2 separate regions of the Homo sapiens genome follow, and region 1 is linked to region 2. A link means that fine-mapping ties the variant in region 2 to the expression of a gene that starts in the linked region. Tissue or cell type: activated CD8 T cells. Region 2 holds a variant in brackets; the other region holds the start of a gene. All regions are shown on one strand. Distances are from middle to middle.

Region 1 (8,178 bases), 40 kb before region 2:
TATAGATCAAACTCTATTTTGATATCTATTTGTTTAAATGGGTAGGGAGAGAATGTAACCAGCACCACAAACTCACTAATGGTTTATTAATGAGAGGATGTGAATGAAGTGGCTAAGTTTAAAAAAGTGAACCAGTTTTAAGAAAAAAATATCAATCCTATGTAGATATAAAAGTCCACATATGGCCAGGAGCCATGGCTCACACCTGTAATCCCAGTGCTTTGGGCTTTCGGAGGCCAAAGCAGGAGGATCCCTTGAGCCCAGGAGGTCAAGGGTGCAGTGAGCCATGACTGTACCACTGTACTCCAGCCTGGGTGACAAGAGTGAGATCCTGTCTAAAAAAAAAAAAATCCACATGCAGGTGGTATCTGAATGACAAGTTTTGGAAACTGTTCCTACATCAATTTTTAAGCAGATTTGCCCTCTCAAAAGATGGATTTGCCAGCGTAGTGGATGTGGATAGGAATGGAGAAGGGGCCGAGGAGAAAACAGCAAGGCTTGCAGGCCCACGTTGAGTCCTGAAGGTGTTGTCACAGTGGGCTCCCTGATCTCCATCCTCATAGCCAAGCTGCAAGTCTGACCCGGGTCCCCCCACCCCTCCATCCCAAGTCATCACTCCCTCCCTTAAATGGCACAACAAAACCCCTCATTGGTTCCCAAACTTTTTGAAAGTAAAAAGCCACTCCTTAGCATGGCATGCTTAATATGGAACATCAACTGGGGCCTACCTTGCTCTCCAACCCCACGTCCCTCAGGGCGCACTGCTCCTGGTGTAATAACGACACTCAAGAGATGCCCATCAATGTCTGTCACACGTATGGACACTGAATCACTGTGCCATTCACACAACTGAGCCCTACCCCACTTCCACAATTTCTCATACAATGCAATCCTTTTTTGAAAAAAAAAAAAATTCCAGTCTAAAGGCAATCTTAATATGTTAAGTTTTGAGTTTTCCTGTTTTCTTTCATGGATTTGGATTGTATCTTCAAATGCCTAAGTTGGCTTGTGTATGGTTGCTTCATCAGATGAAAAAGATGTTATGAATCTACTCTTCTTCTCTTTGGAGCTTTTAAAAAATGAGAGTCTCAAAGGAAATCTGAGATTGGTAATGATTGTTACAGGAAAGGGGTCCCAATCCAGACCACAGGAGAGGCAGGGTTCTTGGATCTCACTCAAGAAAGAATTGAGGGTGAGGCCACAGAGTAAAGTGAAAGCAAGTTTATTAGGAAAGTAAAGGAATAAAACAATGGCTACTCCTTAGGCAGAGCAGCCCCGAGGGCTGCTGGTTGCCCATTTTTATGGTTATTTCTTGATTATATGCTAAACAAGGGGTGGATTATTCATGTCTACCATTTTTAGACCACATAGGGTAACTTCCTGATGTTGCCATGGCATTTATAAACTGTCATGGCGCTGGTGGGAGTGTAGCAGTGAGGATGACCAGAGGTCACTCTCGTCACCATCTTGGTTTTGGTGGGTTTTAGCTGGCTTCTTTACTGCAACCTGTTTATCAGCAAGGTCTTCATGACCTGTATCTTGTGCTGACCTCCTATCTCATCCTGTGACTTAGAATGCCTTAACTATCTGGGAATGCAGCCCAATAGGTCTCAGCCTCATCTTACCCAGCCCCATTTAAGATGGAGTAGTTCTAGTTGGAATGCATCTGACAATTATCAGAGTTGAGCAAAATCTGGGTGACCAACCAATTAGATCACTGGCATTGGGAATAGTCAGTAGACACCATCCTATCCACAATCCTCCTGCCACAGTTACAGGATCTGTCTTGGGGATCCATCACCACGTATATATGTCAGTCTACTCCTGTACAGCTAAATAAATATGTATATAGTCTAAATAATCCTTTAAAAAACCCAGTCATCTGAAGTGAGGAAAGACGTACACGAAGTACCCTATCACTATAACCTATTTTATCTTCCTAGCCCTTAATACTCTATGCAAAATAAATTCCAAAGTTAAAAAAAATCTAACAGTGGGTTGGAACCTAGGTCTGGATATTATTCTAAGCTCTGCCACAGGCATGCAGTTTGCCCTTGGACAAATTCCTTGACTTACCACCATCTCTGTTTCACCATTCCCAGAATGCAGCCTAGCAAGTAATCCCTCCCTTTCATTACATGGAGGACAAGATACACTCACGTCCTTTCGCAAAATGGGACACCTCTCTCCTAAGAAAGATGGAAATCAGGGGGATATATTTTAAAGAGATTAGATTAAAATCAACATGGCATGTGAGAAGAAAAATGATTACGTTCTAGAGTAAACAAAACCTGAAATGAGTTTATAGTCTATTCTCACCCTTTTGGTCCAAACAAAAAAGTATTGCTTGATTATTCTTTCCTGCTTCACTAACAGATTACAAACTCCCTGGGAGAAGATAGATTCTATGTGTCATATTTTCCATTCATTAGCAATTGCTCACTGAATTGAAATATTTGCTACTTCCCCACTATAGAGTGTTTCTCAATGTGTTTCATTCAGCATTGTACTCAACAAATGTTTGCTGTATGAAGACATGTCTGTGTTGAGTGTTTACACCACTAGTTAACAACTTCCCTTTGTTAAATCTTAGGTTTCTATTTTTTCGTTTTATTAACCAATGCTGCAATATGCTTTCTCGTGCATCAGTACTTCCCTAGACATCTAATTGCCTTGTTCAATTTGTGACGTAGAATTTTGCAAAAAGGAAGTTTACACAGCGAAAAACTATATATACAAATGAAATAAAATACATGATTTAAAAAGACCGCATATTTAGAAGCAAAGGAAATATTCATAAACATTGTGGTTATTCCTCAATAGTGAAATTACTGATGCTTTCATAATCAGAATAAAATTACATATGTAATAAAGTCCGTGATACTGTCATTCAAAATAGGGGATTTGGTACTCCCTTACATTTATACAGTTCTCAACAAAAAGCCTTTTATTGTTTGCTCTGTCTGGTCTTCTCGCTTATCTCTTAAACTTGCAAACGTATAGTCCTAGCCCACCGCACTCGGTTCCGAAGAAGGCGTCCCTCGGACAAAACCGAGGAATCTGTCCTGCTCTGTAAGGAACTAGGGCTTGCTGATTCCCAGATTTTAACGAGAATCCCTGCTCCCCGTAGGCGCTCCATAAATTTTTACTGGACAACTTCACCGCGCGCTACTGGGCCTCCGGGAGACCCGTGACTCCCACCCGCTCTGGGCGCGGGCCCGCAGAGCCTCAACCCGCGCCCCCGGCAGCCGGGATTCCCCGCCCGGACCGGCTCCCAGGCTGGAAACATCATGGTCCGCACCCGGGGCGCAGCCGAGACCCACCGCGCCGGAGGCCCCGGGACCCGCTCAGACCGCTGCTTGGCCACTCTACGCCCCTGAGCCCCCCACACAGCCAGCCCCGTGACCTCCGAGCCCCGTGACCTCCGAGCCCCGTGACCTCCAAGCCCCGGAAGCCGCTGTAGGCAGCGGCCCAGCCAGGCCCCGCCCCCTCCACCGGAGCTCCACGCGTCAATTCCAGCCAGGCCCCGCCCCCGGCCGCCCCAGGCGTGGACCCAAGCCAGGCCCCGCCCTCTGCCTGGCTACTCCAGGCGCCCACCGCCCCAGGCGTCCTCTAGCCCAAGCCCAATGCCCGGCTGCTCCAGACGTCGACAGCCCCATGCCCCGCCTCCTAATCGGCTGCTGCTGGCGTCCTCTGGTCCAGGCTCCGCTCCCTACCCGGCTGCTCCAGGCATCCTCTAGGCTAGACCCCGCCACCTACCGGCCGCTCCAGGCGTCCGCAGCTCCAAGCCCCGCCCTCCGCCCGGCTGCTCCAGGCGGCCTCCGGCTCAAGCCCCGCCCCCTGCCCGGCGGCTCCAGAGGTCCGCGGCTCCAGGCCCCGACCCCTGCCCGGCTGCACAAGGCGTCCTCTGGGCCAGGCCCCGCCCCCAGCCCGGCCGCTCCAGGCCCCGCCCCGCCCCCTCTGTGCGCGCTCCGCTCGGCAGCCTGTGGGACGCGACCGCGGCGCTAGTCTCGTTCCTTTGTGCTGCGGCGGCGGCTTCTCGAGTCCTCCCCGACGCGTCCTCTAGGCCAGCGAGCCCCGCGCTCTCCGGTGACGGACCATGTCGGCGGCGGGAGCGGGCGCGGGCGTAGAGGCGGGCTTCTCCAGCGAGGAGCTGCTCTCGCTCCGTTTCCCGCTGCACCGCGCCTGCCGCGACGGGGACCTGGCCACGCTCTGCTCGCTGCTGCAGCAGACACCCCACGCCCACCTGGCCTCTGAGGACTCCTTCTATGGCTGGACGCCCGTGCACTGGGCCGCGCATTTCGGCAAGGTGGGTGCGAACGCTTTAAGGCGCCATTTTCCCCGGCTGTCCAGTGGGAGTCGGGGAAAGCGGGTCTGAGGTGCGGGGGACGTGGGGCGTGCCGGGATCGCGGGGCGGAAGCGGGATCGACGGCGCCTGTGCCCCGAGGGGCCTAGGGCGCCTGTGCGGCAGCGCTCGCGGCCCGGAGTCGCGGCGGGGCAGCCGGGGGGCGCGGGGCGGAAGCGAGGTCGGTGGCGCCTGCGTCCGGAGGGGCCTAGGGCGCATGTGCGGCGGCGCGCGTAGCAAGTTTCTAACAAGGCGGGCTCCAAGGGTCCCGGCGCCTGTTGGCCGGATCCTGTGCGAGCGCGCGCGCGCGCGGATGGTGCGGGGCCCTCCAGGCCGGGCCGGAGGCGCGAGCGATTTCGCAGAGCCGGGTATTAGGCCGCGAAGTCGCCCAGGCGGCTTCCGGGGAGCCGAGCTGGGGTCAGAGGCGCGCGGGGAATGCCCGGGCGCGGTCGACCTTCTGGTTCCGCACAGCCTCGCCAGTAGCCGAGGGCCGCGCTGCGGACGAGCTCAGCCGAGGAGCAAGCGCCCCGGCGGGACTGGAAGGCCCCGGCAGCTGTGTGGGATGGAGGCCGGCTCTCCAGCTTCTGGGTTTGCTTTAAGGCTTGTAGCTGGCCCCGCTTCAGCAAAATTAGTGACGGCTGTGTTTATCTTGGATCTAAATTACTGCAGAAGTGGTTAAATTAAGCAGAATTCTCTTCCCGTGGAGGCTTTACGTTCCCCTCTTTTTTCTTAAACTGAAAATTCTGGGGGAACACAGTGCTGCTTTAAGGTTTTAAAAGGTTGGATAGCTACCGTTTCCTCATCTGTGAAGTCGTTGGGGTACTTGCTCTCAGAAATCTTAAATAAGATTTCACCGTGCATTTCAGAAGTGACTGGTTTTAATTAATATTTCTTAATTCACTGAAATTCAGGGATGTGTATAGTGTTTTTCTCGTAAGTGATGAGATGGGGTTAAATGGTTTTGCAGAAATATGTGAGAGGTAATGTGAAATAAGTTACTTTAAGAAGGCCTGGCCCTGGTAATGTCGTTACCAGCTGATGAAGTTGCGGTTTACCTTGCTGCCCCTGGTGCTACATTCACAAAGCAGCTGTGTCTTTTGGAAAGCAGTTTCTGATTCTTTTAAAGTGGAAAAGTCACTTTTCTTTCAATAAAAGAAATGAAAAGGAGTTTTGACGATCGGGGTGGGACAAGCAAGTTAATCAGTCCTCAAGGGCTGTTAGGTTCCTGTGGCACTGTCTCTGAAGTTGTGCAACCGTAGTACCTGCTGGAGAAAACAGGTGCCCAGGGGAAATGAGTTTCTTAACAAACAAAAGTAATAAAGCCTCCTCCCTGCGCTTCTGCGTGCAGCCTTAAATAGATTTCCCGAGGCAGTCAGTAATCTGAGGATTTCCTCCCTCCAGAGTGTCTCTTGCTGTGGTTTATTTTTACACTAAACTTTAGGATTCTGTCCTTTCTACCCTGGTTGAGAACGACACAATACTGGGTGATAGTCAGTGAACAACGATCTGTAGAATGCTTAAAGCCTCATTACAGATGGTCACTTAGAAAATTTAATCCAGTGGTGCCTCCACTTGTCTCTGGGGATTAAAATAGTTACTTTAAAATGGTAATTTTTAATGTGTATTTTATCACAGTTTTTTAAAAAACACCGACTGAAATCACTTTTCAAAAGTCTACTTCCATGGGACTTTGAGTAGTAGCTTTACCTTGGTCATCAAATGTTGTAACAAGAAGCAGTTACTTCATTGTTTCCAGCTGTCTGAATCATAGGGCTCTTTGGTCTTAGATACGGAAGGGGCCTTAGAAAGCCCCTGTCCAGTGTCCAAACATTCCCTTCTGAGAAGAAGCCGTTAGGACAGAAATCAGGCCAGGACTCAGGGCTACCGCTTGCGAAGTCCAGGCTTTCTCCCCAGCCCTGCTAACGGCTGCCCTCTTACACAGGTTTCAGGCTCGTGTTCTTAGAAATGTGCTAGTGGTGCACAAGATCCCCTAACCGTTGGTAAGACTCGTTTGTTGCCAGAGGACTAAACGAGTTGTTTAAAATCTCTGTTGTAGCTTTTATACCATATTGAACAGTATCTTTCCAGAATTCCAAATCCAAGTTTCTAAATTGAACCCAAGGGTAACAGGTTTAAAGCCAGCGAGCCCTGAATAGCTGATTTTTGGTACGCCAAGTGATTTTCATCCGTTTTATTTTTATTGGATTTGCAACCTGTTCATCTTATCGCTAATTAATACTTTCATTTTCACCCAGTGAATTAATAAAGGCAATAAATAGACATCAGCCTTTACTCCCAGGTCCAAGTTGGTTGAAGAGGGTGTTTTGAATCTGTGTACTCTTCATCTCACAGGAGTGTTTACTGAAAGCCTGAAAGTGCTAAGAGAAATGGAAAAAGAAACCTTGAGTTGAGATGGTAGTGTCAGGTGTTTTGTCTTCAGGTGAGGTCTCTCCTCTTGAAGAGAATTGCTTGCAGTCAGGCATAGCTTGTTCCCTAACTGCATTGTGATTGGAGTGAGGGAAAATGAGCAGTCCAGGATCAGAGAACGTGGGTTGAACAGTTGCTTGGCACATGGTAGGCACTTGGTAAATTTGTTGAATGCGCTAAATTATTTTAGCCAGAGGCTATCATGGTATTGGTGCTTGGCCACAAAGTCTTAACTTGCCATGTTAGTCACCCACTAGGTGCATTGCTCAGTTATGCTGTAGGCTTTTTTCCCCCATAGGGTTTTGAAAAGAGTAAAAAAATGTGGAGAATGGGGCCTCTATTGATTATTCAATGAGTATTCAGTGCTGGCTTGTGTAAAAGTGCACAGTTGTGCACACTATAGAAAATAGTCTTTGACTATGACGAGTTTACTATGGCTACACAAAGTTTGTGGGGTTTTTTGTTGTTGTTTTTTGTTTTTTTGAGACAGGGTCTTGCTCTGTTGCCCACGCTGGAGTGCAGCGGCGTGATCTCTGCTCACTGCAACCTCCACCTCCTAGGTTCAAGTGATTCTCCTGTCTCAGCCTTCTGAGTAGCTGGGATTCTAGGTATGCACTACCACACCCAGGTAATTTTTGTAATTTTGTATTTTTGAAACCCCAGTATGGGGTTTCGCCGTGTTGGCCAGGCTGGTCTTGAACCCCTGACCTCAGGTGATCCACCCGCCTTGGCCTCCCAAAGTGCTGGAATTACAGGCATGAGGCACTGCGCCTGGCATTACACAAAGTGGTGGTGGTGGTGTTGGTGTTTGAGATGGAGACTTGCTCTGTTGCCCAGGTTGGAGTGCAGTGGCGTGATCTCAGCCCTCTGCAACCTCCGCCTTCTGGGTTCAAGCAATTCTCCTGCCTCAGCCTCCCAAGTAGCTGGGATTACAGGTGCCCGCCACCACGCCCGGCTAATTTTTTTGTATTTTTAGTAGAGATGGGGTTTCACCATGTTGGCCAGGCTGGTTTCGAATTCCTGACCTCAAGTGATCCACCCGCCTTGGCCTCCCAAAGTGCTAGGATTACAGGCATGAGCCACTGCGCCCGGCCTACACAAAGTTTTTTAACCCACCAATCCCTTTAACGTTTTTGTTTAGAATAGTCTGTGCAACAAACAGTTTTGATAGAAGTCTTGGAACAGCGCAGTCCAATATTTTCTGATTTTGGCTTATTCAATTGTAGGGAAACAAATATTTAAATCTGTATAGTGTTAGTCGTCTTTTTGCATTTTTCTATTTCTATCTACCGTCTTTTTCATAAGGACAAGGGAATATGTTATCTTAAATGTCCTTTAAAATTTGCATGGCATTGGGAAAGAGTGACTTAATCTGTTAAAAAACTGGTAACAATGCCATTTGTCAC
Region 2 (8,178 bases):
ATGCAAGGTACAGCCTTACAAAGATTTCTGCAGTGATTTGTGTGAAGAAGAGAACGTTTGTCTTTTTCAATGAAGCTTTGCAGATCACCATGTGGTTGAAGGTTTTAGTTGTGGACACAGTGGTCCCTCCTTAATGATGAAGATCACTGCCTTGGGCTTCATGGAAAACAGGCCCAGCCTGGGGCTGCGTTTGGATTTATTGTTTTTATTCCACACTTCCTACTTGGTCTCTGGAAGTTTTACCACATGTAACAGATTCCTTTATATGTAGTGGAAATCACTATTTGTAGAAACTGTCAGGTCAAAATATTTAACTGACTGTTGACATGTATTTTCTTTTTTCCTTGTTTTTGTTTTTTGGGGTTTTCTGCTTTAAGATATATACCACTATGTATATCCAGTTAACTGAGAGAATTTTGACTCTCTTAATAAAACTGCATTAAGTTTTTGATTTTGTAGAAATTAGCTTTTGTCTAGGCAACTAGTGGTTATACTCTGCAAATATTGTAATGAATTTTTACTTTTTTGATTTTTGTAATAAAAATTGGTGCAGATAAAATGTCAAATGAACAAACCAGTGTTCTAAGAGTGTTACTAACATTTTGTTCTAAAACTGTCCTTCACAAATTGAATAAAAAACTCTCACACTCAGTGTGTCCCTGGGGTTTCTCTCTGGGCTTGGGGGCCGGCGGGGTGTGGATATCTGTGGAAGGAATGGGAAGGGAAGAGAAGTTTACTATTGTTTCATTTTGCTTATAAGATTTTACTTGACTCTTCTGACACTCTTCATACGGTGTTTTTTCTATTTTTGAGTTTCTACTCTAGTTTTATGGGCACCGTTGGTACTGAACCTCTGTGGAGGAAGGATGAATTGCATGTCAGTTCAGTATTGTGCCTGGGTGCTTATTTTCATAAAAGACAGCAACCATAATGTTCTAAACTTCTTTGGTTTTAGCAACTGTTAATTAATGTAAGCCTTTTAGGAATATGAATTACAGTTATAAATAGCACCAATATAGCCATTCTGGCATGCCTACATATGCAATTTAAAACATTCACTGCATCATGCATATTCTTGTAAAAACTTAATAGACCACAATGAGGGAGCATTATGCTTTGGAAGTTTTGCAAAAATTACAGTGAGAACAGGAAGAGAATGCATGGCGCTGTCCAGGCCACCGCCTCCCATCCTATGGCAGACACTAGTAATCAAGCTTAGAACTGAGATTTGGCCTCAGACTGATCCAAGAAGCCACCCACACTACTGAGTTTTTAAGAGAGATGAAACTTGATGCCATCCCGTTTGGACTGTTTTCTAAGGTATTCCAGATGTTCTATAGTGACTTAATTATTTGCTGAAAAACGTTGTGAATCTCTGAAAACACAGTAAACATACTTTTGATTAGTCTTGAATTTTTGGACAGAAGATGACTGCTTAGGAACAAAAATGTTGCATAGAACCTAGAGTAGGGCAACATCCACACTTGAGTGGATGATTGAAGTAGTTTGTCATATTCTAGTTTAGAGTCATTTACACCAGTATATTCAGTTCTTATTTAGTGATACATAAGGAAATGGTGATGATGGAATTGCTTTCATGCCTGGAATTTGCTTCAAACCATAAAAATATGAGTGGAGCCCATGATCCCTGGTGAGTGGAGACAAGGATCAAACACAACTGGTGCAGGCCGATGTTAAATCTGGGTGGTGGGTATGTGAAGGTGCGTTAGTCTGTGTATTTTGTATTTATTTGAGACAAGTTTTTTGGGGTTTTTTTTTTCAGGACTTGAAGAAAAAATGCTCTATTAAAAAATATGGTTGTCATTTTAACATTGAGAATAAGCTTAGGTATTTCTGTGTCCACCAGAATTGACGTTTATACTGACTGCAAGAATAGCTCACTGAGTCTTAGCCTTTTTGGCCTGCAGATACTTTCCCATGCATGCATTCTCTTGTACTAGTAGAAACAATTGGAAAATGAAATAAAGCCCATTTACAGTGACACCCAAACCATGGCATACCTATGAAAATATCTTAACAAAAGATGTTCAAGACCTCTACACTGAAAACTATAAAACATTACTCAGAGATAGAATACCTAAATAAATTTTTGGTTGAAGTATGTGGAGAAAATCTGGCCTTACACAGATAGGTAATTGGAAAAAGGGATATTTGAATCGTCTTTGCAGTTAATTGTGAGTACTTGATACCATGCCCAAACTCTGTAGTGGTCGTGGGGCAGGAGAATAGGAAGTTAGGGTAACCAAGGGCTAAGGCATAAGCAAAAGAACAGCAGGTACAGCCAGTTCTAGGCAAGATTAGGCAGCACTCAGACCACAGCCTCCTACCTGTGATAACAAGACAGTCTCCACTTCAGCCTCTGATTGGTTGCAGGCTAATCTTTCATAGGGTGCAGCCAATTGGAGGCCTCTAAAGGTCACCTAGGGGTGTTACCAAATTCTTTTAGCTTAGTAAAAACCCTAGAGGGGGCACTCTTGACCCTGGCTCAAGTTGGCTCCCACTCTGGAGGGTACTTTTGCTACAATAAATCTGCGCTTTTTTTGCTTCTTTCGTTGTTTACTTCTTTTGTTGCTTTGTGTGTTTGGTTCCATTCTTTATTCAGCTGCACCAGGAACCTGGACAACTCGCAGTCAAGACCTTCCATTCAGTAACAGTAGTTTCTTAAAGGCTAGTTGCAATGTTGAATCAGGATCCACATCAGTGAGCTTCTTGTATCGTTCCTGTAGAGTCCATCTTTCACTTAGAATGGACCTTTAACCCATGCATAATTTTTTATGCATTACTTGGGAAATATTTTTTAATTGAGTTCTGCAAGTCTTTCAAATGTTGAAACTTTTCATTAATATTAAAACATTGATAACCAGCCAGGTGCGGTGGCTCACGCCCGTAATCCCAGCACTTTGGGAGGCCGAGGCAGGTGGATCATGAGGTCAGGAGATAGAGACCATGCTGGCTAACAAGGTGAAACCCCATCTCTACTAAAAATACAAAAAAAAAAAAATAGCTGGGTGTGGTGGCACGCACCTGTAATCCCAGCTACTTGGGAGGCTGAGGCAGGAGAATCGCTTGAACCTGGGAGGCAGAGGTTGCAGTGAGCCGAGATCACGCCACTGCATTCCAACCTGGGCAACAGAGCAAGACTCTGTCTCAAAAAAATAAAACATTGATCACCAATAATCTCATGAAAGTCAAAAGTTGGAAGTTGTCAAGCTCATGGTACTGGATACAAGTTTTACAACATCCTGATTTTTGCTGAAAAACTCAAATTTTATCATTGGACACAAATACTGTCAGTTTT[CCTTG/G]AAGTAGAAGACTCACTTGGTTAATTTTTTGGTTTTTTTAAATTGAGACGGGGTCTCACTCTGTCGCACAAGCTGGAGTGCAGTGATGCGATTTTGGCTCCTTACAGCCTTGACTTCCTGGGCTCAAGGGATCCTCCTGACTCAGCCTTGGAGGTAGCTGGGACTCCAGTCGTGCACCACCATGCCCGGCAATTTTTTTTTTTTTTGGGGGGATGGGGTCTCACTATTTTACCCAGGTTGTCTCAAACTCCTGACCTCAAGCAATCCGCCCACTTTGGCCTCCTAAAGTGCGGGGATTACAGGCTTGAGCCACTGCATTACAACCTGGTTATTTTTTTTTTAATCACATAGCTTGTCAATCATTATTTCAAATGAAAATGACGTTTCTGAAAAAGTCACTGGATACACTTATCGCACAATCAGCCAGAGCCGTGCTTTTCCTGGAGACAGCTGTACACAACAAATCCTTCATGCACACTTCCCTTTACATCACAGAGAACGTGTGCTGTCAAAATTTACTCATGTTTACAGCATTGAGGGCATTCTTAAGTGAAATTGGGTTTTTTTCTTTTTTTTGACTGCACGGCAGTGAAGAATATGAAGGTGATCAGGCCGGGGCAGTTTTTGCTAAGGTGCTAGTAGCTTTACCCACCATTTCTTTTGAACCCTCAGTGCCGAAGTCAACACTGAAAAAGGCAAATCACATCTCGGTAATGAGACCGTTTTGATTTTGGGGACCCCCTGAAATGGGGTCCTGGGGACCCTGGGGTTCTGCAGGCCACAGTGAGAGAACTGCTGGAATGTTTTGAATGATGAGATCTAAGCAACTAGTGATAAATACTGGAAAATGTAGACTGGGTATTCATTGAATTACCCTTTTTGACTTTTCCATAGGTTGGATTTTCGGGGTTTTATTAAGGAGAAGAAAACGGGAGAATAATTTGGAGACAGAACATGGGAAACATTGAAGAGTTTCCCGGAAAGGGGGAGCCAAGAAACAGGCAGCGGGTGGAAGGGAGGAGCCCTCGGGAGGGCGGGAACCGGGGGCGGGGCGCCGGCGCGGGTGCAGGGACGAACCATCAGGAGGGCGGGAACCGGGAGAGAGGCGCAGGGGCGGGGAGAGGGGGGTGAGCCGGGCGGTTCTGGCGCGGCTCTGCTTGGGGAACCGCAGCCAAGGTTGGGGCGAGGCCGTGGTTGGGATGGGCCGGGGCGGGTGAGGGGTCCCGGGGCGGTGGGAGGGTAGCGGGGGCTGCGGCAGGGCACGGCTGGAGCTGGGGGCTGGAGGTGGACACCACCCCAAGAGTCTGCACTGAGCAACGGTAACAGTGAGCCCGGGCACAGCTGCAGCCAGGGAGACCCTGAGTGTGCGAGTGTGCGTGTGAGGATGTGTATCAGTGTTTGCAAATGCATGTGAGTGAGCGAGCATGAGGATGTGTGTCCATGTATGGATGTGAGTGTGCAAATGTGTGCGAGGACTGGGAGTGTGTGAGAGCGTGTCAGTGTGGGAATGTAGGGGGAATGTGGAGGGAAGTGTGTCGTTGGCAATGTGTGAGTGTGCAAATGTGTGAGAATGTGAAGGGAAGCGTTGAGTATTGGATGTGAGTGGTAATCTGGTGTGTGTGAATGTGTGAATGTTTATGTGTGAATGTACGTGATGTGTGTGGATGTGTATGATGTGTGCGCACGTATGAATGTTGATTTGTGTGACGTGTGTGCAGATGTGTATGAATGTGTGATGCATGTGGATGTGTGTAAATGTGGCTGCTGTGCATGTGTGAATGCTATATGTGTGTGACGTTTGTGACTGTGTGTGTGCAGGTGTGACTGTTTTATATGTGTGGCTGATGTGCATGGGTGGTAGTGTATGTGAAACATGTTATATGTGTGCATGTGTGAACGTGTGTGGCTATTGTGCACGTGTGGATGTGTGTGAATGTTGCATGTGGGTGTTGTGTCGAGGTGTGGGCATGTGTGTGAATGTGACTTGTGTATCTGGATGTGTGTGAATGCAGGTGTGTGAATGTGTCACTTGTACATGTGTGGATGAATGTGCGTGTGTGAATGTTATGTGTGTGTGACTTGTGTGGGTGTGGATGTGTGTGAATGTATGCATGTGTGTGAATGTCGTGTGACGTGTGTGTGTGAATATATGTGTGACTTGTGTGGGTGTGAATATATGCATGTGTGTGAATGTCTTGTGTGTGATGTGCGATGTGGAGAATGGATGGAAGAGCAGGCGCTTGGCGAGGGGGGAGGGAGGAGGATCAGAGGCCATGGGAGAGGGCGGAGGGAGCGTAGGAGAGGCCATGGGGGAGGGGAGGGGCGGAGAGGCCACTGGGGAGGAGAGGCCGGGGTCGGGGGCGCCTGCCCACCGTGAAGAGGCCCCTGAGGGCAGCTCGGCCTCCTGTTGGGGGCCAGGGTCGGCTCTGGCGGGAAGGCCCAGGCAGTGCAGAATCATGGAGCTCAGGGGCCCTGCTGGGGTCCGCTCAGGAGCCTAGGGTCCTTAGAGAGGTCTCAGGAAATGGGCAGGGGGAGATGGGGCTGGAAAGGGGACATGTGGACAGAATGGGGTCGGAATCGGAGTCTCCCGGGCAGGAATCGCTGGGAAGGTGGACATCTCAAGCCCTGGAGAAGCTTCCAGTCCGCGGAAAGGGGAGAGGACTGGAGCTCCTGGGTGTCTGGGGCAGGACGTGGATGGGGTCACATTTTTCTCTGTTGGGAATAGCACGTGCGAGGCGTGGGCTCGGGCTTTGAAGGTTTGCAGGGTGGGGAAGGGAGGCCGGTGAAGCTCTGAAACCATCCCCGAGGGGACTCTGAGTGACCACTTTGTGGTCAATCCGCAGGGAGAGCTGAGGACGAGGCGGAGGCCCCACAGGTGAGGGCCAGGTGAAAAGCCCTACAGCTGCTGTGTTGTCGAGCCCCGTGGCCAGGCGGGGCGGGGGGCCATGGGTCCCCCAATTCTCTGGGCATTCAGCAGAAAAACCGGCAGGGCTCAGCCAGGGAAGCTGAACTAGAAGTTTCTAACCTGTGCAAGCAGAGCCACACAGGTCAAGAGGACTCTGGGAGGTCCCAGGGCTCAGGGAGGGGCTGCGGGAAGTGCAGGCTTGGGAAAGGGGTCTCCACCTGGAGTTCAGGCCTCATCCCAGTAATGGTCACAGCCACCAGATGACCAAGTGCCCCAGTACCTGGGCAGGCAGGTCCACAGTGCAGCAAAGAGGGATGTGCCTCTTGGGCAAAGTCTGGCAGAGGCTGAGGGGTGGGTACTCGCCCAGTACCTGTGCTGGAAGGTCACCTTGAAGGGGTCCCCAGGCCATGACCAGGGCTGCAGTGTCCCCAGGGTTAGAGCTGGTCAGTGCAGAACTGGGCATCCCCCTCAAAACACAGCACTGACAGCAGCAGCAGAGCGTTGAGCTGTGAGGCAGGACGTCCCACCCGGGGAGGGGCCCCTTCCTTGGGCTCACGTTCTCAGGAGATCACAGTGCAGTGTCAGCCAGGGCTGCAGTCTCATCTGAAAGCTCCCCTGGAGCCTCTGCATCCAAGCTCACGCACATGGCTGGTGACTGGACCCAGTTCCCCCCGGGTCGCTGAACTAAGGGCCTGAGTTCTTTGATGGTTGTTGGCCTAAGGCCACCCCAGCTCCGTGCAGGGGAGGGCAGGGGCCTCTCCACCAGGCACTCTGAGGAGTGCTCACCCCCCGCAGGGAGAGGCGGGAGGGACGGGGAAGGGCAGAGGACACATCAGGTTTTTCATCTTACTGCGTTTTTTTTAAAACAGGAAGATCTGAAGCCAACTACATTCAGCAAGTTTTCTTAAGAACAAAGTAAGAAAGATAAACCAGAACAGCCCTGCTTGGCTTATCCCGGCCTCGCCTTAACCCTCCCTTCCCTGCCGTCTTTCTGTGGCTCCCCTCTGCCAGGTGCCCCCTGAACTTTAAGATTCCAGGATGGTTTGAGAACAACTTCGATGTTTCTGTTTTCCCATTTATGAAGGCTACTGTGCTCTCACCAGTGAATTTAATTACAAGATTTTTAGAAGCAGCTAAAAAAATTGCAACTCAGATGCATCAGTGAATCAGTCCTATTCCCTGTCTGCTAAAGGATGTCTTTTCGTTACCATCATCTGCCGCAGGGCTTTTCTGACAGTTCATATAATTCAAGATAATTGAAGCCAATTTTGCAAGCAAAACGACAGGAACCACTACATGAAATAGCACATCAAGTCTCTGATTCACAACAATGGCACTATTTCCTCAATGGTTTTAAAATTCTCTTGGCTAGGCGTAGTGGCTCACGCCTGTAATCCCAGCACTTTGGGAGGCCGGGGCGGGCAGGTTGTTTGAGCTCAGGGGTTCAAGACCAGCCTGGGCAACAACGTGAGACCCTGTCTCTACAAAAAATACAAAAATTAGCTGGGCTTGGTGGCGCATGCCTGTAGTCCCAGCTACTTGGGAGACTGAGGTGTATCAATTGAGAAAAATGACAAGACAAGTCTCAATCATTTTAGGAGGTTTACTCGCCAAAGTTAAGGACGAACACTCGGGAGACAGTCTGTACCTTTCTCCGAAGATGATTTTGAGGGCTCCAAATTTAAAGGGGAAAGGGTGAGATAATGACAAGTACACAATTTTCATCTAAGAGGCGGGTAGAGAAAAATAGTCATGCGTTTGGCTCATTGAATCTGCATTATTTTTACACAAGATGACTTAGACAAAGGGGGCAGGGGAACAATCAGGTTTGCATTTGTGTCTGGCGGGCAGGGGTTGACTGCACCTGTAAAGATGAGCTATCGATTTGCATTGCTGTGGTGAAATCTTAACAGAAACACCTTACAGTAAAGATTGCGGAGCTCACTAGGA

Direction of the effects. Positions count from the first base shown, and alleles are read on the strand shown. Sizes are in standard deviations (SD) of each study's normalised expression.
In carriers of allele G in region 2, the expression in activated CD8 T cells of the gene that starts at base 3,965 in region 1 tends to be lower than with CCTTG alone (moderate effect, 0.72 SD a copy in Schmiedel 2018).

What was found. PIP is the estimated chance that this variant, and not a neighbour inherited with it, causes the effect.
Region 1: it holds the start of ANKRD10, and the variant in region 2 is fine-mapped to the expression of ANKRD10 in activated CD8 T cells (Schmiedel 2018, PIP 0.95).

The regions. Positions count from the first base shown.
Region 1 is chr13:110,910,856-110,919,033 of GRCh38, reverse strand. ANKRD10 (ankyrin repeat domain 10) reads left to right here and starts at 3,965. Exons shown (of 6, transcript NM_017664.4): 1 at 3,965-4,309. The coding sequence starts at 4,100. RefSeq lists silencers at 3,124-3,283, 3,414-4,073, 4,344-4,713 and enhancers at 2,651-3,325, 4,824-4,953, 4,677-5,353.
Region 2 is chr13:110,871,013-110,879,190 of GRCh38, reverse strand. It overlaps ANKRD10 (ankyrin repeat domain 10), which reads left to right. Exons shown (of 6, transcript NM_017664.4): 6 at 1-651. Among named protein-coding and RNA genes, the nearest start is that of PRECSIT, 4.8 kb to the right of the region's middle. RefSeq lists a silencer at 4,303-4,522 and an enhancer at 5,460-6,337. The variant CCTTG/G (reference allele first, on the strand shown) is at 3,320.